Homo sapiens: one gene and its partners. The protein of the gene in region 2 purifies or fractionates together with the protein of the main gene of each other region. This does not show direct contact. Each region holds a gene or a part of one and is shown on either strand. Other genes may lie near its edges.

The links.
Region 1: the proteins of TBCD (region 2) and TSN fractionate together in Homo sapiens (co-fractionation; one large-scale study listed by BioGRID). This does not show direct contact.
Region 3: the proteins of TBCD (region 2) and WDR12 fractionate together in Homo sapiens (co-fractionation; one large-scale study listed by BioGRID). This does not show direct contact.
Region 4: the proteins of TBCD (region 2) and TOM1 fractionate together in Homo sapiens (co-fractionation; one large-scale study listed by BioGRID). This does not show direct contact.
Region 5: the proteins of TBCD (region 2) and TPM4 fractionate together in Homo sapiens (co-fractionation; one large-scale study listed by BioGRID). This does not show direct contact.
Region 6: the proteins of TBCD (region 2) and NMI fractionate together in Homo sapiens (co-fractionation; one large-scale study listed by BioGRID). This does not show direct contact.
Region 7: the proteins of TBCD (region 2) and TCP11L1 purify together in Homo sapiens (affinity purification with mass spectrometry, with the first as the bait; one large-scale study listed by BioGRID). This does not show direct contact.

The regions. Positions count from the first base shown.
Region 1 is NC_000002.12:121,758,651-121,762,150, reverse strand, and holds part of TSN (translin), read right to left. Parts: intron 3,442-3,500; coding exon 3,345-3,441; intron 743-3,344; coding exon 627-742; intron 1-626. UniProt on the Homo sapiens protein: DNA-binding protein that specifically recognizes consensus sequences at the breakpoint junctions in chromosomal translocations, mostly involving immunoglobulin (Ig)/T-cell receptor gene segments.
Region 2 is NC_000017.11:82,765,565-82,769,064, reverse strand, and holds part of TBCD (tubulin-specific chaperone D), read right to left. Parts: intron 2,799-3,500; coding exon 2,697-2,798; intron 646-2,696; coding exon 499-645; intron 1-498.
Region 3 is NC_000002.12:202,873,761-202,877,217, forward strand, and holds the end of WDR12 (ribosome biogenesis protein WDR12), read right to left. Parts: 3' UTR 501-3,457; downstream 1-500.
Region 4 is NC_000022.11:35,320,394-35,323,893, reverse strand, and holds part of TOM1 (target of Myb1 membrane trafficking protein), read right to left. Parts: intron 2,153-3,500; exon of another isoform or gene 2,047-2,152; intron 1,936-2,046; coding exon 1,857-1,935; intron 896-1,856; exon of another isoform or gene 867-895; coding exon 717-866; intron 399-716; coding exon 264-398; intron 127-263; coding exon 1-126.
Region 5 is NC_000019.10:16,096,995-16,100,494, reverse strand, and holds part of TPM4 (tropomyosin alpha-4 chain), read right to left. Parts: intron 1-3,500. UniProt on the Homo sapiens protein: Binds to actin filaments in muscle and non-muscle cells. Plays a central role, in association with the troponin complex, in the calcium dependent regulation of vertebrate striated muscle contraction.
Region 6 is NC_000002.12:151,269,970-151,272,668, forward strand, and holds the end of NMI (N-myc-interactor), read right to left. Parts: intron 1,764-2,699; coding exon 1,657-1,763; intron 907-1,656; coding exon 724-906; 3' UTR 501-723; downstream 1-500. UniProt on the Homo sapiens protein: Acts as a signaling pathway regulator involved in innate immune system response.
Region 7 is NC_000011.10:33,063,572-33,067,071, reverse strand, and holds part of TCP11L1 (T-complex protein 11-like protein 1), read right to left. Parts: intron 1,243-3,500; coding exon 1,061-1,242; intron 1-1,060.

The DNA of each region.
Region 1 (3,500 bases), on a different chromosome or scaffold from region 2:
TGTGGTGGTGCATGCCTGTAATTCCAGCTACTCAGGAGGCTGAGGTAGGAGAAATGCTTGAACCCAGGAGGTGGAGGTTGTGGTGAGCTGAGATTGCGTCATTGCACTACAGCCTGGGCAACAAGAGCAAAACTCCATTTCGGAAAAAAAAAAAAAATACAAAAAATTAGCTGGGCATAGTGGCAGGCACCTGTAATCCCAGCTACTCGGGAGGCTGAGGCAGGAGAATCACTTGAACCTGGGAGGTGGAGGTTGCAGTGAGCGGAGATTGCACCACTGCACTCCAGCCTGGGCGACAGAGACTCTGTCTCAAAAAAAAAAAAATATTTACATAGCACTTATACTGTATTAGATATTTTAAGAAATCTAGAGATGATTTAAAGTATGTGGGAGAATGTGTATAGGTTATATGCAAATACTACACCAGTTATATAAGGGACTTGAACATCCTCAGATTTGGGTATTGGAAGAGCTCTGGAAGCATCATCCTCAGATACCAAGCTACAACTATAAGTGGTTTTTAGTTAATTCTTGTTTGTTTTAATAAACAAAGTACAACCACCCTTTCCACCAAAAAGTAAGCAACCATGCCTGATTCTGCAGATCCCACTAATAAAGACACTTACTGCCAAGAATTTCTGTAACTGCTTCTCGAGTCACTAGTGTTTCTGTTTCCAAATACACAACAAATGCTGCCAAGAAGACCAAGCGCTGCAACACAAACCTCCAGTGCTCATGAAATCTGCATGAAAATAAGCACATTTAGCCTCCAAGGTTAGGGACCTTCAGAAAGATGGGTTTAATACAGCCATGTTCAAACGGTTTAGAAATGCGATCATTTTTCAAATAAAATCTTACACAAACCCCCAATATATAAAGAGAAATATGACATTTAGCATTAATTTTACAAGTTCGAATTTATAACAATTAAGTTTAATCAGTGACAAATATGGTCTAATTTTGATGAGTATGAAAATTTACGCCGGGTGCGATGGCTCACGCCTGTAATCCCAGCACTTTGAGAAGCAGAGGCAGGTTGATCAATCTGAGGTAAGGAGTTCAAGACCAGCCTGGCCAACATGGCAAAACCCCCTCTCTACTAAAAATACAAAAATTAGCCAGGCGTGGTGGCAGGCGCCCATAGTCCCAGCTACTCGGGAGGCTGAGGCAGGAGAACTGCTTGAACCTGGGAGGCAGAGGTTGCAGTGCGCAAGATCACACCACTGCACTCCACCCTGAACGACAGAGCGACACTCCGTCTCAAAAAAAAAAAAAAAAAGACAGAAAAAAGAAAACTGAAGATTACAGATGACAAGAGCAATTGTGCCTTCTAAATTTAATCAGTAAGAACAGTGATACTGCTCTGAAAAAAATAAAAATTTGTAACTGATGATTGAAGACAACTGCAGTTATGTATCATCCTCAACGTATTCCTCCATTTTGATTTGAGTGCAGAATACCAAGAAAATTCTGATTCACAAAATTACCATTTGCAATCACTAAACAAATGCACTTAAAATAGAATACTGAGCTAGAAGCCTGAAAAAAGGAAATTTTACAACCTGTGGATATTTATGCAATGCCTCCTGATTCTCAAATGTGGCAATACATTCAAAAAAAAGGTCTCAACATAATGCAGGTCACACAAACCCTTCTGAAGGCCAAATCCAGCCAGAGGGCAGCCTGTGTGTGACCTCCAGAGAAGATGGTCTCTAAAGACCCCACCTGTTCTACTGTCCTACCTCTCTCTGTGCTTCAGCTATTACAACAGCAGTCCCTGACCTTTTCAACACCAGGGACTGGTTTCATGGAAGACAATTTTTCCACAGAAGGGGGGCGGATGGTTTCAGGATGAAACTGTTCCACTTCAGATCATCAGGTATTAGATTCTCATAAGGAGCATGCAACCTAGATCCCTCGCATGCACAGTCCACAATAGGGTTCGCACTACTATGAGAATCGAATGCTGCCACCAATCTGACAGGAGGTGGAGCTCAGGCAGTACTGCAAGTGATGGGAAGCGGCTGTAAATACAGATGAAGCTTCACTCGCTCACCTACCGCTCACCTCCTTCTGTGCATCCCAGTTCCTAACAGGCCACAGACCAGTACCAGTCCATGGCCTGGGGGTTGGGAACCCCTGCCTTACAGCAAGGATCAGCAAATGTTTTCTGTAAAGGGCCAAGTAGTAAATATTTTAGGCTTTGTGGGACGCTTTCACTGTTACATATTCTTATCTGGGATTTTCTTTTTTTTAACAACTCTTGAAAAAACAAAAGCAATTCTTAGCTCCCAGAGGCAGCAGCCACTAGTGGTTTGTCAACCTCTCCCTTAAAAGAATATTCTCATAAGGTTATACTACCCACCCCCTGAAAATACTCATCCTATTTACTGCTGATATATACGTCTTAAAAGAACATCTTTTTCAGTAAGAAAATTAAAATAAGTAGAAACTTTTGATTCAGGTGCAGTTTTTCCCAGTTTAACACCTATGAAACCAGGAGACATTTCACAATCCATGTTTCACAAGTTGTTTTTTTTTTTTAGATGGAGTCTCACTCTGTTGCCCAGGCTGGAGTGCAATGGCACAATCTTGGCTCACTGCAACCTCCGCCTGCCTGGTTCAAGCGATTCTCCTGCCTCAGCCTCTGAAGTGGCTGGGGTTACAGGGATAAGCCACCACACCTGGCTAATTTTCGTATTTTTAGTAGAGACGGGGTTTCGCCATGCTAGCCAGGCTGTCTCAAACTCCTGACCTCAGGTGATCTGCCCACCTAGGCCTCCCAAAGTGCTAGGATTACAGGTGTGAGCCACCACGCCTGGCCCATGTTTCACATTTATGACTGGCAAAATTTTCCTTCCCTACTGGTACATAAAATAATGGTGTATCTTAAAATCAACAGTGTTGATTTTAATAAGAAAACATGGCATAAAATATTAGCTAATTACATCACTTGGCAGTGAAATTCAAGCTTCAAAGTAAAACTCGACTCCATATATATACTGCCACCTAATCTCATTATTTCACTAACTATAGTTCATCCAATTTCACAAGAAACTTGAATATAGCAAAAAGATATTCTCACTTTTGACCCTCATACCACATTTTCTTTTTAATTGCTTTTTCACTGCAAAAGTAATACATGTTCCTTAAGATTTAGACAGTAAAAAGAAGAAAAAAATAAAATCACCAATTTTTGTCATGACCATTATTAGTTCGGTTTTTTCTCTTTTTGTTACTTCTACACAGGATGTTTGCCTAGTTGTAAGCAATCATTTGGTACACATAATTTTTCTCCTTTTTTTTACTTAACATTATAAAATAATGCTATTTTTCTTACAAACCTGTAATACTGTTCAGCAGGAAATTTGGTCTTCAAAGATGTTAGATGTGTTTTTACTGTACCAAAATGTTCTCGAGCTTTCAAACACCTCTTTGGAACTAGTCACAAAAGATAACCAAATGAAAAACTTAACCAAATTTCAAATACAGTTCTTGCT
Region 2 (3,500 bases):
TTATGATCCAATAGATAACTAATACAATAAGCTGTGTTTATATGCATAATATTTACATCAGGAAAAGTTCGGAGAAAATAAACAACTTATCTCTTGGCACTAGAATTTCATAAATTTAAATTTAGTATTTTTCTTGCTTATCTTTATTTTCTAGTTCTCCTACAAATGAGCATCTATTATTTATATAACGTTAAGAACTAAATGTAAAATGGGTCCTTATTCTCTCTCACCATGCCACTAAACCCTTCCTTATCTGCCATGATTACCCTCAACAGAGTATTTGCATCATCTACAAAGAAATGAGATTTGCTAACTCAACCTGACCCCTACATGAATTATCACAATTTCAAAATAAGTTATCCTATGGGATTTTACCCCACTGAAAAAAACAGCAGTTGAATACATATCAGAAGCTTACCGAGTAAACCACTAACATCAAGACAGCATGAACATGAAAGTGAGTACTAATTAGCAGCTAATTATCTGCATGATATTTACCTCTGCTATTTGGAGAATACGGTCCATTATGGACATTCGTGCTTGCCCAGGCTGGGTGAGGAGGTTCCCGTCAAGGCGAGAAAAATCAAAAGGGATCAGGCAGGTCACGGAGAGCCAGAGCAAAAGCATGTAGCGGGTTTCCCAAGCCTAAAAAATTAAACCACGGGAAGAATGAGTCTTGCTTGAAAATCACAGGCCACTGGCCACAATCTACTCAAAGTCACTGCCCTCCATGCCCACCCAATGCCTATGAAAGCCATTCAAATGCCATCACCCTCAGGGCCAGAAATGCAAGCCGTTCACCAACTCCTCGCCACATCCCCCCCGGAATCCCCACCACACACACCTACCGCCGTAACTTAGCTCAGCAGACAAGAGAGACATCAAAATGAACAAAGAAAAATCATAATACATCAGTATAGCAGCTTCTCTTCGCTGGCACCTCTCCACATACAAACTGGCCTTTTGAAAAAGTGAAAAACAGATAAAAAGTAAAAACACCTAAGAATAAAGAAAAAAGGCCAGGTGTGGTGGTTCACACCTGTAATCCCAACACTTTGGGAGGCCGAGACGAGCGGATCACCTGAGGTCAGGAGTTCCTTTTTTTTTTTTTGAGATGGAGTCTCGCTCTGTTGCCCAGGCTGGAGTGCAGTGGCGCAACCTCGCTCACTGCAAGCTCCACCTTCCGGGTTCACGCCATTCTCCTGCCTCAGCCTTCTGAGTAGCTGGGACTACAGGCGTTTGCCACCATGCTAGGCTAATTTTTGTATTTTTTGTAGACACAGGGTTGCACCGTGTTAGCCAGGATGGTCTCGATCTCCTGACCTCGTGATCCGCCCACCTTGGCCTCCCAAACTGCTGGGATTACAGGCACGAGCCACCGTGCCTGGCCGAGGTCAAGAGTCCTAAACCAGCCTGACCAACATGGAGAAACCCTGTTTCTACTAAAAATACAAAATTACCCTGGCGTGATGACACATGCCTGTAATCCCAGCTACTCAGGAGGCTGACACAGGAGAATCGCTTGAACCTGGGAGACAGAGGTTGCAGTGAGCCAAGATTGTGCCATTGCTCTCCAACCTGGGCAAGAAGAGTGAAACTCTGTCTTTTTAAAAAAAAAAGAATAAAGAAAACAATTATCAACTTCTAATAAAAAAGGAGTACCCTTATTTTCAGTAATTAGTAAAAAACATCCCAATTTGTCCCTGCAATCATTCCACTGGGGGGCGCTAGAAGTACTAGGGAAAGAAGGGCACGGAGTGCAGGGCAGCAGGGAAATGCCCCACAGCGCTCATCAGTCACATCCACGCCGAGACAAGCCACCGCACTGCACGGTTATAAACCGTGTGCTCCTCCAAATACATACCACGCAGAAGACAGCGAGCATAGCAGGCCCCGCTGCCGTCTGAGGCAAGGCCCCTGACGAGGCCGGCCCTGGGCTGGTATCCAGGGACCTGGACACCAGCAGGGTTCCCACCAAGCCCTGCCTGATGAGGTCCCTCGCTGGCTCAATCTGCACAAACCGTGTGCTTTACGCTGGCACCTGCTTTCCTGCTGGGGGTCTGGAATTTCGTTTCGTGCCAGGCAGAGGTGTCCATGTGGCCAGACCCCAGTGAAAGCTCTGGGCACCAAGTCTCAAACGTGCTTCTCTGATAGACACCTCACAGGTGTGGTCACATCTCACTGCTGGGGGAATGACACAGGCCCTGTGGGACCCAACTGGAGGACCCCGGGAGCTCCCGCCTGGTTCTCCCCAGACCCCACCCATGTGCCTTTTCCCTTTGCTGATTTTGCTGTGTATTATTTTGCCATAACAAGTGACAGCCAAAAGGAGGACTCTATGCTGAGTGCTGTGAGTCCCGCTCAGGAAGTATCAAACCTGGGGGTGGTCTTGGGAACCCAACACAGTTATACTTACACAGTTAAAAAAACATAGAAACAATGACGGATTTATTGTTAAACTACACCTAGGCATAATTTTTTTTATAAAGGGGCTATTTTAAACGAAAATAATTTAAAGCAACTTGTACAAGAAGTAAAGGAAAAGTGAAAAGAAAAGAAAGAAAAGAGGAGTGACACAAAACAAAGGGAGATAAAATGAAAGAAACAGGAAGGGGAAGGTGCAGCAGGGTGGGGCAAGCAGGGAGGAAGGACAGGCACGGAGGGCTGGAGACGAGGGGGGAGGCAGAGACACTCACTTCATGGTCCTTGGGATTCTGAATTGTGACCAAATCTAAAACAGGCTCTACATCGGCAACTTCATGAGGAAATAAACGAAGAAATGTTTTATAGCCTCGAACCTATCAAATAAAGAGATGCTGAATTATAACATTTAAAAATACAGAGAGCAGCAAAATTGCCTTTCTACCCTTTCATCAAAAATCACCAGCTACGCGACCCACTGATCAAAGAGAATTCTGTGACATTACAGTGACACAATTTAGTAAGACCGTAGTCACCCCAAGAAAGCTACCCATGGCCAAGAGCGATGGCTCACACCCGTAATCCCAGCACTTTGGGAGGCCGAGGCAAAAGAATAGCTTGAGACCAAGAGTTGGAGACTAGCCTGGGCAACATAAAAAATTAAAAATTAGACAGGATGGTGGCACATGCCTGTAGTCTGAGAGGATGAGGCAGGAGGGAGAATCATTTGAGACCAAGAGTTCGAGGCTGCAGTGAGCTGACTGCATCACTGCACTCTAGCCTGAGTGACAGAGCAAGACCCCATCTCTCAAAAAAAAAGATTTCCTTCCTAAATTGGTAGTGTTATTCATTACCATATTTACGGAATCAGTCATTAAATATGTTCATTTATATGACTGTCCTCTGACATTTATGAGGAATAAGTGCCTACAAACCGCAAGGGCCCAAATTCATTAACACTTCCCTGAAGCTCAGTGATACCACGCCTTCCGGAGAAATCCTAACCTCAAACAGAGGAGCTACAGAGGCCTGCGTGTCCTTGGCAGCTCACCCGCAGTGTCCTCTCGCTGGCCAAGGAC
Region 3 (3,457 bases), on a different chromosome or scaffold from region 2:
TAATGTAGAGCTAGCTGCTGATGCTTCTCCTGGACAGGAGTCAAGTCTCTCATATTTCATAAATGCCTGTGGAATGAATTCTTTCTTTAGCTGTTGGATACAATGTTTAAATGGCTTGCACTAGGAAGAGCGTGGTAGTTCAAGCCTATAATCCCAGCACTTTGGGAGACTGAGGCAAGCGGAGCACTTGTGGTCAGGAGTTTGAGAACAGCCTGGCCAACATGGTGAAACCCTGTTTCTACTAAAAATTCAAAAATTAGCCCCATGTGGTGGCGTGCACCTGTAATCCCAGCTACTTGGGAGGCTGAGGCACGACAATCACTTGAACCCAGGAGGCAGAAGTTGCAAGCCGGGATTGTGCCACTAAACTCCAGCCTGGGCGACAGAGCAAGACTCTACTTGCACTAGTCTCTTAACAAAAGGAGGCAGCTCAGTCATTACATTTTAGTGTTGCATAAAACCTCTTTAGAAAGTGAAATAATTTAACACCTTTAAAGTACTTTTAAATTTCATTTAGAAGTACATTTACTGAACTGTTATTTAACTTTCTATCCTTTCTATCAACATATAATACACTTATACTAAGGGGAAAAAAGGGGTTTTCCTCCATTGTATAGACTTTTACAAGCTAACTAGACAAGAACATTAGATGACTTGGAATGTAGGGCTCCACAAATGGGATCCAAACCTAGAGTCTTAGTTTCTTTAAAGACTAATGGTCTTCACTTTTGTTTTTGTGCAAACCTCTGGTTAATCTCCCAAATAAAACCTCAGTTGATATTAGAAAACACTAAAAATTATTCTACTGTTTTGTACTGTTTTACTAAGGATTAGAGGTCTATTGAATCTGACATCACACAAAAAGCTCTATTTCTTCAAGGCATTCCAGTTTCTTTGTAATCTGTTGGATTTTACCGAAGACGTCAGGAGAAGCATTATAGGTCAGTGACAGTGGGGCCATGGAGAGCTATCTTCCCAGATACCCAAATGAGTAATTAGATACTGCAAGCTAAACATTCTGTCTCTTCCCTACTACATTTCTGTTTATTCAAGCAAAGCTAGAAACAGTATTAGAATTAGACACAATTCTAGAATTAGAATTATTATGATGATTTTAAATGTGAAGTGTTATCGACATCGTTTTAAAAATTATTTCCTCCCCCTGAAACCACTGAACTTCATCTGGTATTAAGTCTCAGCCATGTTATTACACTTTCACCAACTATACATAGAATTGTTTGACATGTTTCTAAACTTTGTATCAGATAGTACCTAACAAGATACTTTCTCTGTAGTCTTTATTACTCAGATGTATGTCGCACAGCTCCATTAATTGGTTACATACCTTCACACTAGGTACTTAACCTGTCTGCATTGTGGTTTCCTTTAAATAACATGAATGACATAATTACATGAATAATAGGATAATTTCTAAAATTCATTTTTGCTTATATACAATTCCTATTAGAATATACAGAAATTGATCTTTATACATTTATATACTATTACAGTAATACGTTTAGTGGCACGCTAAAATTGAAATTAATTTTAAAGGCAAAAAAATGCAAAGCTGAACATATTATTGTAATTTAGTACCCACAAATGTCACTTAAATTTATGTATTACTTTTTTTTTTTTTTTTTTTGAGACGGAGTTTCGCTCTTGTTGCCCAGGATGGAGTGCAATGGCGCGATCTTGGCTCACCACAACCTCCACCTCCTGGGTTCAAGCAATTCTTCTGCCTCAGCCTTCCAAGTAGCTGGGATTACAGGCATGTGCCACTATGACTGGCTAATTTTGTATTTTTAGTAGAGACGGGGTTTCTCCATGTTGGTCAGGCTATTCTTGAACTCCCGACCTCAGATGATATGCCCACCTCAGCCTCCCAAAATGTTGGGATTACAGGCGTTAGCCACGGCGCCCAGCCACATATAACCTTTCTGTTAGGCAAGTGAAGACACTTCCACACTCATTCTTTCCATTTATAAAAACATCATTCTTGTGCACGACATAAGATTGACAAAATATATACCAGTTAAGAGCTTGTCCAAGATAAGTCCAAGTTCAAATTCACTGCCATTTATTTCCTGCCTGTGTGACTGTTCAAAAACTTTAACATATATTTTTCTCTCCTATAAAATGCAAATAATTTATTACCTATAGAGGATTATTATGGTAGGATATAGTTTCATTGTTACTTTTATGGACACTGTAAGAAAATAATTTACTTCCTCAAATCTGCAAATCATTGGAACTGCTATTAGAACAACCATTAGGTTTAATTCTGTAAAACTAACCAGCCAAAAACGTTTCTCTCCTAAGTTATAATAAAGATATATTTGGTTCAGGCTGGATGCAGTGGCTCATGCCTGTAATCTTAGCACTTTTGAGGCCAAGGTGAGATGATTGCTTGAGGTCAGGAGTTGGAGTCCAGCCTGGGCAACATAGCAAGACGCCATCTCCACAAAAATAAAAAAAATAGCTGGGTGTGGCAGCATGCAATTGTACTCCCAGGTACGTACTCAGGAAGCTGGGGCAGGAGGATCCCTTGAACCCAGGAGTTGAGCCTGGATGGCAGAGCTAGACTATGTCTCGTAAAAAGAGATATATTTGGTTCATATAACAAAATACTGTTATTGTGTTTGATACTTAATCTATGATAGTCAAAAATGTCAACAATGAAGTGACTAAAATGTTCTTGCTGTTTCTACACCTGGCAGTTTCTGGCTAGTAAAATCTGGATTTCACTTGCCTAATGAAATCTGATTCTAATTAGTGGCTTTTTAAATAAAAAAGATATTATTGGAATATCCCTTGCATATAGTCTTAAAATGTCATATTTTTTCCTTTAAGAATAGGAGCCATAGTAATATCTATTAAAAAATCTGTATTTTTGGCCAGGCACAGTGGCATGCCTATAATCCGAGCACTTAGGGAGGCTGAGGCATGAGGACTGCCTGAGGCCAAGAGTTCATAACCAGCCTGGGCAACACAGCAAGACTGTCTCCACAAAAAAATTTTAAAATCAGCCAGATGTGGTGACATGCGCCTGTGGTCCTAGTTAGGAGGATGAGGTGGGAGGATCCCTTGAGTCCGGGAGTTAGAGGCTGCAGTGAGCTATAATCGGGCCGCTGCACTCTAGCTTGGGCAACATAGTGAGACCCTGTCTCTAAAAAATGAACAAAAATAAAAACTAGTATCTTTCAAAAAATTTAATATTTTCCTTATATTTGTTATATATAGTAAACTGTTACCTTTTTTTCAAAACTACGATACATCAAAAGAATTTTAGACTGTGTGAACAGATTTCAATGTTATTATCAGAAATTCCCAGATGGTATATATATATATATATTTTTTTTTTTGCAGGGTTGCTTGTTCCATTATATGCATTTTATATCAATTTAAACTTTTGTTTGTTCTTTCTCCAATAATATACTAGGAAGCATTCTGATAT
Region 4 (3,500 bases), on a different chromosome or scaffold from region 2:
GGGCGTGTCACCGGAGAGTATGGGCGGGGCGGGCAGAGGGGCAGCATGCTGGCCAGAGTCCTCTTGCTGGCTGGAGTCAGTGCCCACAGAATCCTGTCCTGATTGTGTCTCTGAGTTGAACACGGTCTAGTGGGAGGAAAACAGGATCAGTGAGGGCTCCTGGGAACATCAAGAGCCCAGGAAGTCAGGGGCCAGCCTGGTGATGTCTCTGGGGATGAGTCCTGCCTCCCTTCCCTTGGTTCCCGGTACGGCAGTTCTCTCACCCTCTGGGGTGTGTGGATGGGTGACAGCATGTCCAGGTCAGTCATGGGGAACTCCAGGCCTTTCCTCCGCAGGTCCTCATAGATGGTGACCACACCTGTCAGATCGGGCGAGCTGCGGAACGCGTCAGCCCAGGACTGAGAGGGGACAAGGGGACACAGCCGGTAACCACAGCTCACCTGTGAGCCTGCCCACCTGGCACTCAGACAGAGAACAGACATTCTTTCCCTGCTTTTTTTTTTTTTTTAACTACATCTGCCCTGCCCACTCCACAGCAAAGCACGCAGTTGGCAAGCCTCCCTCCCCACAGAACATCCCACCAGCCGACAACCGAGACGCCCCGAAATGAGAAGCGGAGCCTGGGACAAACACGATGGCCTCGACTCTCCACTGGGCAGGAAGCTCCTGCACTGACAGCTCTTCCTGGCCGTGCCCTGCCCTGTCCTGGCACTCACCTGGATGAGGTTGAGCACTTTGTCATGCACGATGGTGGGTGGGTTGTTCTTGGGCAGGATGGTCCTCACCAGCACACTCTCCACGAAGTCCTGGCTGGCCACCAGCACGTGGAAGCGGTGCCCGCAGTTCTTGACACAGGTTTCTAAGACCTGGAGGGCCGAGAGGTGCCGTCGAGCACCTTGGTCAGAGGAGAGGAGGTGCTCAGAACCCCCACCCTCGTGGCTCCTCCTGTGTCCCAGAGAGGAGGCCCGGGAGAGGAGATGGGACTTCCTGGAGTGAGACCCTTGAATGTGGAGGACTGGGACAATGCCAGGACTGGGGGACTTGTTTACTGGAGGGCACGGCCTAGGGTGGGCAGAGGTATGGTGTGTGGGCTGGACTTCCTTCCCTGACTGGCGTCAGTGCACGCAGAATCCCAATGCTGTCTCTGAGCTAAACATGGTCTAGAGAGAAGGGGCTCTCCAAGAGGAAATCAAGGAGCATCTGAGATGTCAATCGACTGGTGAGCCTGTGGCCCAGGGAAAAGGCACTGAACTTCCCTCCCCACTCTCCACTTCCCACTGCAGGAATTGCCTTTGCTTTTTGCTTAAGCCAATTCACCTGGATATAAATGCTGCTTGTGGAGGAGGGTGGGACAGCATTTATATCTTCCCCAGCCAAACCCATGCTGACGGCTAGGAGGCCCACGTGTGTCTGGCCGCCCTGAGATCTGGGCTGGTTCAGTGGTGTGGGCAAGACTGTTCTCAGCCACTGGTATTTATTTTACATTCATTTGCCAGAGCACCAAAGTGCCGAGCAGCACCCAACTCAGTCAGCCGGCCTCCCTGCCCCCGCGGAGGCCTGGGTTTACTGAGCTTCAATGTCACCCACAGGTCCTTTGGCCCAGGCTCTCCCTGCCAGTGGTTCTGGAGTGATGTAAGCGTCTGTTCCCATGCTGGGGGATTGGGGAGAACCTTTCCAAATGGCCTCTTGCCATTCTGCATCCGCCTGCAGTGTAGACAGGACAGTGCGTTGCCTACAGACCTTTCCAGCTCTCAAATGAGGAGCTCAGAGGAGGCTGGGAGTCCTGCTGGGTCTGAGGGGAGGTGACTTTCAGTGGACCGTAGTCCTGCCACAGGACAGACAGATGGGGCACTCACTGTGAGAGCCAGCATCACCTCGTGGAAGTTCTTATTCCCCACGATTCTCTTCTTTACTGCTCGGAGGGCATCTTTGGGACTAAGGAGGACAAGAAAAAGGGTGGGCTTAGGAATAGAGCCCCCTTACCTAACACCAGAGACCCTGGAGAGTTGGAACAGTTCTTATTGGCCCATCCTCCCTGTGCCCCACCTGTTTTGTGTATCCAGCCAGGTTCTGATCACATCAGAATCTTCCTAGCCCATTGCTTAGCAGGGACTCACAACCTGTGGCCCCTGGACCTCCAGCAGCAGAGTCACTTTGAGAAAAGATGAGAGCGTTTTGTTAAAAGTGCAGAACCTGGCCGGGCGCGGTGGCTCATGCCTGTAATCCCAGGACTTTGGGAGGCTGAGGCAGGTGGATCACTTGAGGCCAGGAGTTCAAGACCAGCCTGGCCAACATGGTGAAACCCTGTCTCTACTAAAAATACAAAAATTTGCCGGGCGTGGTGGTATGACCCTGTAATCCCAGCTACTTGGGAGGTTGAGGCGGGAGAATCGCTTGAACCCAGGAGGCAGAGGTTGCAGTGAGCCGAGATTACGCCACTGTACTCCAGCCTGGGCAACAGAGTGAGAGCCGAGATTGCGCCACTGTACTCCAGCCTGGGCGACAGAGTGAGACCCTGTCTCAAAAAAACAAAGGACATTCAAAAAAAAAAAGCAGAACCCTAGGTCCCCACCCTAGACCACCTGAACCAAATTCTCAGGGAGTGGGGCCCCTGAATCTGAATGCTTCTCATGCTCCCCAAGGGTTTCTTATGCATGCTCAAGTTTAAGAACAAATAACCTGGAGGCATAATGTTTTCATTACAAAAATAGAGATGGGGTCTTGCTATGTTGCCCAGGCTGGTCTCAAACTCCTGGGCTCAAATGATTCTCCCACCTCGGCCTCCCAATATGTTGTGATTACAGGCATGAGTCCCTGAGCCCAGCTAGCATAGTGTTCTGATGCCCCGTCCTGGCCAGCTGCTCTATCTGTCCATTTACCCTTCCATTCAAGTTTTTTTTTTTTTTCCTTCTGAGACAGAGTCTCACTCTGTCGCCCAGGCTGGAGTGCAGTGGTGCAATCACAGCTCGCTGTAGCCCGGAACTCCTGGGCTCAAGTGATCCTCCTGCCTCAGCCTCCCAAAACGCTGAGACTACCAGTGTGAGCCACCATGTCTGGCCCATTCAACTCTTATTAAGCACCCAATATGTATGTAGCACCATGCTAGGTGCTGGGGACACAGTGGCAAACAAGACCATATGGCCCTGCCTCCTCCCCACCTTGCGGGGAGATCCAAAGAAGAGCAAGGAATAAGCAGGTCCTGGAAAAAGAGCAGAGGTGAGGATGGGGGTGGTCAGAAAAGACCTCCGAGGGGGTGGTCTTGTAGTTGGGCCTTGAAAGATGGGAAGGACCACCTGGGGGGAGTGGGGGCAGAGCAGTTTGGGTCAAGGTCAGAGCCTGGACCAAGGTCTTGGGTGCAGAGGAGCTTGATGCCTTGGAGGAACTAAGAGGAGGCCACACTGAGTGTGGGGGAGGTCGGGGAGGGCTGAAGAAGCCTAGGGGTCACGGTGTTGGGAGGCCCCTGGAAGCTGGGGTGCCAGCCTGCTCTCCCTGTCCCCTCT
Region 5 (3,500 bases), on a different chromosome or scaffold from region 2:
ACTAAGGAACAAGCACCAAATTTGGGAGTCACAGTTGTAAGATAAAATGCAGGGCGCCCAGTTAAATTGAATTTCAGATAAACCACAAATAATATTTTAGTGTAAGTATATCCCAAATGTTGCATGAGATGTACTTATGCAAGAGATATACTTATGATTAAAAAATTATTCATTGCTTATCTGAAACTCAGATTTAAGTTGGTGTCCTGTATTTTTCCTTGTGAACTCTGGTAACCCTTGAGTCAGAATACCTGAACTTAAGCTCCAGTTGTATCACTTAAGTAAGCATCTAACCTTCCTAGGTCTGTTTTCCCCGTCTGTCAAATGGGGGTAACGATATCAATGCGTGGTGTGGGGGTTATGATGAGGAATAAAGGAGAAATACTTCAGAACCTATGACGTGCTGCTACATGAAGATTTCAGTCCTAGATATGTGTGACTTAATATAAATTTCCACCCAAGTGCTAGTTAATTAGCCCCTGAGCCTTTGATAGTTAAATCTAAAATCCTGTAACCCATCTTTCCTTCGGAGCTTCTGGGAATGGCTGTTTAAATTATACACATAATTGTGTAACTGTCTATGAATCCAGGAGAACGGAGACAAACCCCAGGTAAATGCGAAATTTAAGCCATTCTACAGGCATGTTATTAAGTAACTGAGCTGATGAAACAATTTAAATTAAAAAAGAAAGAGAGAGAGAAAAAAGACGCCATTTAGAGCTATGCGTGACAGAGCACGAGAGAGAACTTAGTTTGCAGTAAGTGATGGCTGATAAGGGACAAGGCCAAGACTCATTAAAATGCTGGGGGAAAGCAAAATGCCTCATAAAATGTGATATCATCAGCCTGGAAATTTACAGAAAGAAAAAAATGACTGCAGAAGATGGCAGCCTTTCTTATTTATTTATTTTTAAACAGGGTCTTGCTCTGTTGCCCAGGCTGGAGTGCAGTGGCATGATCATAGCTCACTGCAGCCTTGACCTCCTGGGCTCAAGTGATCCTTCTACCTCAGCCTCCCAAGTAGCTGGGACTACAAGTGCGTGCCACTACACCCAGCCAATTCTTGTATTTTTAGTAGAGATGGGGTTTCGCCATGTTGCCCAAGCTGGTCTCATGCAATCCACCCACCTCGGCCTCCCAAAGTGCTGGGATTACTGGCATGAGACACCATGGATCCTTGATGTAAGGAGTTCGAGACCAGCCTGGCCAACATGGCGAAACCCCATCTCTACTTAAAAATACAAAAAATTAGCCGGGTGTGGTGGCGCACACCTGTAATCCCAGCTACACAGGAGGCTGAGGCAGGAGAATCACTTGAACCCGGGAGGCGGACACTGCAGTGAGCCGAGATTGCGTCACTGCCCTCCAGCCTGGGTGACAGAGTGGGACTCCATCACACACACACACACACACACACACACACAGAGTCAAGTGACTATGACCTGGGAGGATTCTATCAGACAGATCAGTGACCTGGGCCTATCCAGTCTGGGTGAATAGATGTTAACTGAATGCTGACTATGTTGGACGAGCCAGTTTCTCCATTATCTCATTTAATCCTCATAACAGAGATATCACCTTTATTTTGCAGAAAACCTAAGCAGCTTGTTCACGTTGGCATGGTTAAAGTAGTAGAGCTAGGATTTTAAATCCTGGTCTCTTTATTTATTATTTTATTAAAAAATTTTTTAAAAATAAAATATTATTATGAATAATTTTAGAGATGGGGTCTTGCCATATTGCCCAGATTGGTCTCAAACTCCTGAGCTCAAGTGATCCGCCTGCCTTGGCCTCCCAAAGTGCTGGGATTACAAGTGTGAGCCACTGCGCCAGGCCTTAAACCCTGGTCTCTTGACTACAAATCCTGACTTCGCTTCATCTTGTCACTCAGATGCTTTAGCATCTATTTTGTTATTAGGTCTGAGATAAAATGACTTTCCCTGAAAGTGTTAACTGCCCTTGAGAATCACGACAAGGCTCACAGACTATCAACAGATAGTGTAGACCTCCATAGTGCTAATCTCTTTTCTTTTCTTTTCTTTTTTTTTGAGGCGGAGTCTCACTCTGTCGCCCAGGCTGGAGTACAAAGGTTCGACCTTGGCTCACAGCAAGCTCCGCCTCCCAGGTTCAAGTGATTGATTTTCCCACCTCAGCCTCCCCAGTAGCTGGGATTACAGGCCCCCATGACCATGCCCGGCTAATTTTTGCATTTTTAGTAGAGACAGAGTTTCACCATGTTGACCAGGTTGGTCCTGAACTTCTGACCTCAAGTGACCTGCCTGCCTTGGCCTCCCAAAGTGTTGGGATTACAGGCGTGAGCCACCGTGCCCGGCCATAGCACTAATCTCTGAAATTCCACTTATGTGCTTAGTTAGGTAGAATAACTGGATAGACAGGCTGCATAGTTACTTCAAAGGGTGGAGTCCAGAAATGCCTGGAGAAATTCCAGGGACAAACACACAGACTCCAAACAAAAACCAGCCCCCTACACAGTCTGTAATCTTTCCAAGGGCATATATATGGCAATGTGTGAGGGGAATGGTTTTTGCAGAAGTTCAGGATGGACGGCAGTTAGGAGCAGGGAGAGGCTGAGGGTGGAAAGGTGGAGGTGGTTTAGGGGAGGTGCATTTTGGAGGAATGGATGAATAGAGAGAGTAATGGGGACAGAGCTTCCCACCTGGACAAAAAAATAGGATGAGGAATAACAATGGATACCGAAAATTCAGGATCTAGTTGGAGATTTTCATGCCATTTCCAGGTTCAAGGGGTAGTCTGGAAGATGTGGCTTGAACATCTAAATGTCAATTATCTGTGATAATTTGAGGTGGTAGTGGTGGTAGGATGCAGGGGAGAACCAGATGCACTATTTGAAATTTTGGGACAAATTGGTATGTTTTTGATCATTAGAAAAGCATAGCTTGGGCCAGGTGCAGTGGCTCACACCTGTAATCCCAGCACTTTGGGAGGCCGAGGCGGGTGGATCACCTGAGGTCAGGGGTTCAAAACCAGCCTGGCCAACATGGTGAAACCCTGTCTCTACTAAAAATACAAAATTAGCCAGGCATGGTGGCGCATGCCTGTAGTCCCAGCTACTTGGGAGGCTGAGGCAGGAGAATTGCTTGAACCCGTGAGGCAGAGGTTGCAGTGAGCAGAGATGGCGCCACTGCACTCCAGCGTGGGCAACAAGAGCGAAACTCCGTCTCAAAAAGAAAGAAGAAAAAAAAAAGCAAAGCATAGCCTGGGCCGGGCAAAGTGGCTCACGCCTGTAATCCCAGCATTTTTGGAAGCTGAGGTGGGCGGATCAGTTGAGGCCAGGAGTTTCAGACCAGCCTAGCTAACATGGTGAAACCCCATCTCTACTGAAAGTACAAAAATTAGCTGAGTGTGGTGGTCCGCGACTGTAATCCCAGCTACTCGGGAGGCTGAGGCATGAGAATCACTTGAACCCAGGAGGCGGAGGTTGCAGTGAGCCAAGATGGCGCCACTGCACTCCAGCCCGG
Region 6 (2,699 bases), on a different chromosome or scaffold from region 2:
CATCGAGCATGATAAGTGATGAGTCACTAACTTTGTATTTACCTCTCTCTCCATGCCAAGGTTTTCAAACTCTTATACCAATTGTTTCCATTGTAAGTGCAAAAGAAAGAAAAAGCTAGTCCTTTACGAGCTCTATTTGGAGAGGGGATGGCTTGGAAGGAATCAAGGGACACTTGGCACTTGGGTGAACAGAAATTCAAGAAAAAGATCACACTCAGCTCTGAGAACCTTTAGAGTTGTGGAGTGAAATGCTATGCACAGTGGTAAATGGTTGCTCTTGAAGTCCTTCGAATCTTCAGTTGAGTTTACAGGAATCACCAACTGCTGAATGTAACTGCCTTTGTTTTGGAAAATGTTAAGAGTCAAGTCTGCATATTGGTGGGCATGGGGCCACAACTGAATTGGCCCACAAGACCATAACAGGATGAGCCAGCACTGGCAGGGGACATCTGAATCACTTAAGGTTGATTTCAGCAGACATGGCACCAATACACATAATCTATAAACAAAACTTTTTATTACAGTGCACTTATTGTAGTTGAAAACATGCAGCACCATTTGAAACAAAGAAGATTCAGAAACATGGAAATAAGTTTTGTATCTAAACATAAATGGATGGTAAAAATTAAAGTTTTCATTTTTTAAGGAAAAGCATATTCATTTTTGTCAAACATTTACAGTAATCCGGGTTAAAAAGCTATAGTTTTCATGATTCTGTTAAGTCTATTCTTCAAAGTATGCTATGTGAGGTTGACCTAGAGAACACTTGACCACATCTACTTCTCCACCTCCATTCTTTGCCCGTTGAAAGTGAATGTTAATTAAATCCTCCACAATTTCTTCATCCATTTGAATGCCTTCCATTCCTGTCAGAAGCACTGTCCTCTTAGATGTTCCTGAAAATATCTAAGAAGGAAAAAATGATAAATAGAAAGATTTCTAAGAGCTTTGAATTACAAAACTTTACATTCATAATCTCTGCTTAATATTTTTTATTTTATCTTAGAAGAGACAAGAAATCTTAGGAAGATTTTCCAAGCAAGAGAATATCCAAGTCAGATCTGAGTTTTAGAAAGAGAACTCTGGTGGCATTATGGAACACAGAGGAAAGGAGGGATGCTCTGGGAACAGAAAGACCAGGTAAAGAGGTAGTCAGAAGTGGAGCTGGCAAGATTTAGTGACCAAATGAATGTTGGAGGTGAAGCAAACTGAAGAGTTAAGTATGAGTTCTAGCTTTTAAGTTGGTGGAGTAGGTAGATGGTGGTACCATTGGATACCTGAGAAGGAAGAGGAAAAGGGAGCAGGTCTGGGGTAAAGATAATGAGTTCAGAGAAAGTAGGCAGGAATTCTTTCTCATGCTCACTGACAGTAGACATATGAGAGAAATGCAACTATGTCTCCATGTACAAAAATAAAAATTGTGCCATTATCTGAGTAATTTCAGTTTTAAAAATTGTATAATAAAGTACAGTTTTGCATTAAAATGCTCCTTCAAAAGACAAACTCATTTTGCACCAAGCAAAAATGAAGTAAAGAAACCATTTTGCTATCCCTCATTGATAAGATGCATAAGTAACAGACTCACAACAACTTTATTTTTTGTGGGGTGGGTTTGGGCAGTGAGTTCTGAAAATGAGAGAACAGAGATGACTTTACCTGATACTTTTTCAAGTGTATTTCTGTGTATGGAGAAACAGTAACTCTATGGCAGGTTTGATTTATATAAAGAGGGTATTCTTTCTTTTTCAAAATCTTGTCAGCCACTAAAAGCAAAACAAAAACAATACTTGTCTTTTTTATATCATAAGCATTTTTAACCAAAGTTAAAACTTCCTTCAAAGAGAACACTATTACAGTAAATATTGAGTTAAAAGATTAATTTTTAAGAAATTCTAAAGCCCACTTTGAAGACTTCACAGTACATAATTTTGAAAACTACAAGACCAAACAATAATGAGGTTTAAAGCCTTCATTCCATCTTGAATTATTCACTGCAGTCAATCAATGCACAAAGGGTTGCAATGTCCTCAGACAGATCTACTTTGAGCTATAAAAAATACCATAGTCTTTTGCAGAAAGTAACCCACTCATCTAACAAGACTGGACTGTTTCCCAGTTTCTCAAAAGCTGTAAGTGAAAACTATGATTAGAATACTATATACATTTTTTTCAATATATTCAATAAACTGAAGTAATGATGTTAACCAAAGCAGGGAGGGGATTGAATGTCATCTAGAAAAACTGAAAGGAAATAAAAATTCATCAGTTTTCTACAACACAAAGAATAGTCTATTTTTTAGCAGTATTTTTTTCTCCTAGAGTGGTGAAAGGATGTGTGTCAAGACTGTAACATTTAACAAAAACAGTTCTTGGGAATATACAACCATGTTTTTTATGACTCTTCTCACTCATCTACCTTGGATCAGCAATATGGTACAATGATTAAGAGTGTAGGCCCTCATTGGCGAGAATATGGAGAAATTGAAACCCTGAGGCAATGCTGATAGAAATGTAAAATGGTACAGCCACTGTAGAAAACAGTATGACAGTTCCCCAAAATATTAAAATAGAACATGATATGATCCAGCAATTCAACTTCTGGGTATATACCCGAAACAACTGAAAGCAGGGACTCGGACAGATACTTGCTCGTTAATGCTCAGAGCAGTATTTTTCACAATAGGCAAAAGGTGGAAGCA
Region 7 (3,500 bases), on a different chromosome or scaffold from region 2:
TAGCTGGTTTCTCTCATGACCTTCCTCTAGGGCTCTGCTTTTCACTGTTAGTCGGTTATGAAAGCAATTCAGTGGGTAGCAACCAATTTTTTTTTTTAATGGAATAAGAATAGAGTAGAAACAATCAGGCTGCATTAAACACAGTTAGGGTCAGTTCCAGTTTGAGAAGTTTTCGTTTCTGTTACACGTGTGTTAAGTGTGTACTAGGTCACAATGGAAAATGAATTTCTTACTGCAGGTCCTAGTCACAAACATTTTTGTCCCAATTAATGTCTCTGGGTTCCAGTTTCTTCATAAGCTCCAGTAAGAGTTTAATACATTTGAATGGCTTTGGGAGAGGAATAAAGCACTCAACAAACAAACACAAGAACCTTGGAGGTCAGGAGACAAAGACAACCCCATTAAAGAAGGAAGGGGTCAGACAGCATCCTGCTCCCTGCGTAGGGAGAACAAATGAGTTGATGGCACTCAACACCGAGCCAGGCCCCGGGAGGAGCATGCTAACAGGGAATGGAGGGCCGCGGGACCTCTAAGCCCGGGATCTCCAATTCCTCAAGGCAAGCAACCATTGGTACCAGCGCTCCCCACCCTGCTCATGGCTTACCCCCCAGCCCGAGCCACTTCTTCTCTCGCCTCCTAAATGCTCCCTCACATCTACTATGTGCCCCATGCCAAAATTTAAACTTAAGGGCATAAATCTAATTACGTTCCCCCTCTTGCTTCAAATCCTTCAATGGCTCCCTACTGCTCTTAGGACAATAACCCAACTCCTTGGTGTGGCCTCTAAGGCCCGACAGGCTACTCGGCTAGTCACACACATTTTGAAGCCACTATCCTAGAGCTCTGCTAACCCTGCAGCAGATTCTAACTTTGACCCTATGACCCTAAATAAACTCTGCTGGGGTCTTCGCCAAGTGAACCAACTGAGACAGCAAGGTTTCTTCTCAGTTCCTAGAGAGTGGCCCTGGGCTCTGCCTTACAGTGGGAGACCCCTCTGGGAGACTCCAGTCGGCTCTCTGACATCCACTGCGTCCCATCCACGCATCAAAGTTCCACTTACGGCAGGTGCATATCTGTTAGCAAAATCTTCACAATCATCTTGAGTTTCTCAGCAAAGTCGGCCTGGCTGGAAATTCCTGGCGCTGCCATGCTGAAGGTGACCAGCAACACAGCCCCCAGGATGGTCAGTTGTTCCAGCTGCAACTGGAGCTCGTGGAAGCGAGACTGGTCCATTAAAACTGTCTGTAATGAATAGAAGAGGCCATCGCTGAGCTGCAGGTCCAGGTTGGCCAGCAGAGGGCGGGAGCGCCACAGCCCCCACACCTGCCTCTGCAGCTTCCCTCAGGGTTTGCGCTAGTGTGTCAGAGCTTTGAGGGAGTCTGGTGTGAAATAACCCCTCTATCTCAGAGCCGTTCCTCCTGAGCAAGGATGCAGTATAGCGCCCTCACTAAGAACACAGACAGGCCTGGGTGTAAAGCCAGGCTCCGTGCTTAATACCATGACCTCCCCGGCTGGCCGCGGTGGCTCACGCCTGTAATCCCAGCGCTTTGGGAGGCCGAGGTGGGCAGATCACCTGAGGTCAGGAGTTCAAGACCAGCCTGACCAACATGGTAAAACCCCATCTCTACTAAAAATACAAAACTAGCCGGGTGTGGTGGTGCATGCCTATAATACCAGCTACTCGGGAGGATGAGGCAGGAGAATCTCTTGAACCCAGGAAGCAGAGGTTGCAGTGAGCTGAGATTGCACCTTGGTACTTCAGCCTGGGCAACAAGAGTGAAACTCCTTCTCAAAAAAAAAAATAGCATGACCTCATGCATGCATCCCCAACTTTGTCGGGCCTCTGCAGAATGGGGACTCCCACATCACAGGGCTGTTTTAAAGCTGAAGAAAGATGCTACATATAAAGTGGCTGGCAGAGCCAGCACTCGATAAATAAAAGTTATACTTATTGTTAGGAAGAAAAGTATAATGAGGCACAGACCTAGGGTCACCAACTCCTCCCAGTTTGTCTGGGACTGTCCCAGTTTTCAAATGGAAATTCCCAAGTCCTGTGAACCCTCACTCAGTCCCTAGCAAACTAGGACAGCCAGTCACCCTGTACAGAGCAATGGAAGGCCAGGTGCGATGGTGGGTGCCTGCAGTCCCAGCTACTGGGAGGCTCAGGCAGGAAGATCACTGAGGCCGGAATTTCGAGGCTGCAGTGCACTACGATTATGCCTGTGAATAGCCACTACACTGCAGCTTGGACAACATAGTGAGACTCCATCTTAAAACAACAACAACAAAAATCCCAGAGCAATGGAAGGGAGGACTGCCTTGCAGGCAGAGCCTACACTTATTCATCTTGGTATCCGCTCAGCACCCAGCACAAAGGAAGCTTGTAAGAACTGGCGAGTAAATAAAGAGGAAGAGAAAGAAACAGGAAGCACAGAGAGTAGAAGTGACAGAGAACAATCTAAAGCCTCCCGGAAAGCAAGCACATTCCCATGACTGCCTCCCCCATGTTAAAGACAGTCCTGGGTCCTACCATGCCAGCGCCCCCACCCGTGTGGCTGAGGGAAGGAGAAGGGAAAGGCTGCACAGATGGGAATCTGATCTGAGAGTTTACAGGCTCATCGAATGGACTCTAAGGACCTTTCTTGCTGTCAGAAACTGAGATTTGCCAAGTCAAGACATGAACAATGTGGGTCACAGCCAAGAAGTAAAAACCCTGAGGATTGAGAATCCTCTGCTGATACAAATACAATCCCAAGGACTCATCGTCGGCCTGTTTTCTGACTTCACATGGCTTTGTGGCTTCCCAACAGCAGGACGTGAGTTTAGGATGCAGATTGCCAAGGATCAATTCCTGGAGTAGACAGCTGTCCCCAGGGACCATCACCATCTTCCCCACAGCGTTTCTTTTCTTTTCTTTTCTATTTATTTTTTTTACGAGAGGGTTTATTCATAAGACTGCCAAGTGAGGAGGCTGGAGAACAGGTCTCACATCCCCCTCTCCATAGAGAGGGCTTAGGGATATTTATGGGATGAAGAAGCAGGGGTATCTAAGGCCTGGGGAAGATGATCAGCGGTGGGGAAAAGGGAGGTATTGGATGGTCTCCCACAGCTATTTTTAAATAGACATGTCAGGCTGAGAACTTCCCTCCAGAAGAGAACATGCCACAGTTCAAAGGGAACATTTTCCCATCTCCAATTTGACATTCTCTTTAGAGCTTCCTCCAGCACAAAACGGGGAACTCAGAGGCAAGAGGTGAAACCTTAAGCTCACAACTTCTTGAAAGGAAAAATAAGGAACTTATAAGAAAGATATTTAGAGAAGTATCTGGATCTGAGGCTAGTGATAAGAAGCTCACGTACCCCCCAAAAAGAGAGGGGGAGTCTACATAACAAAACAGCTATTTAGAGAAACACTGGGGGAATCCCTTCTTAGTCATCTTCTTAAAGAGGTCTTGCAGTTAGAAGTATGTATTGTGAAAAACATAAAAAGAAAAAAATAT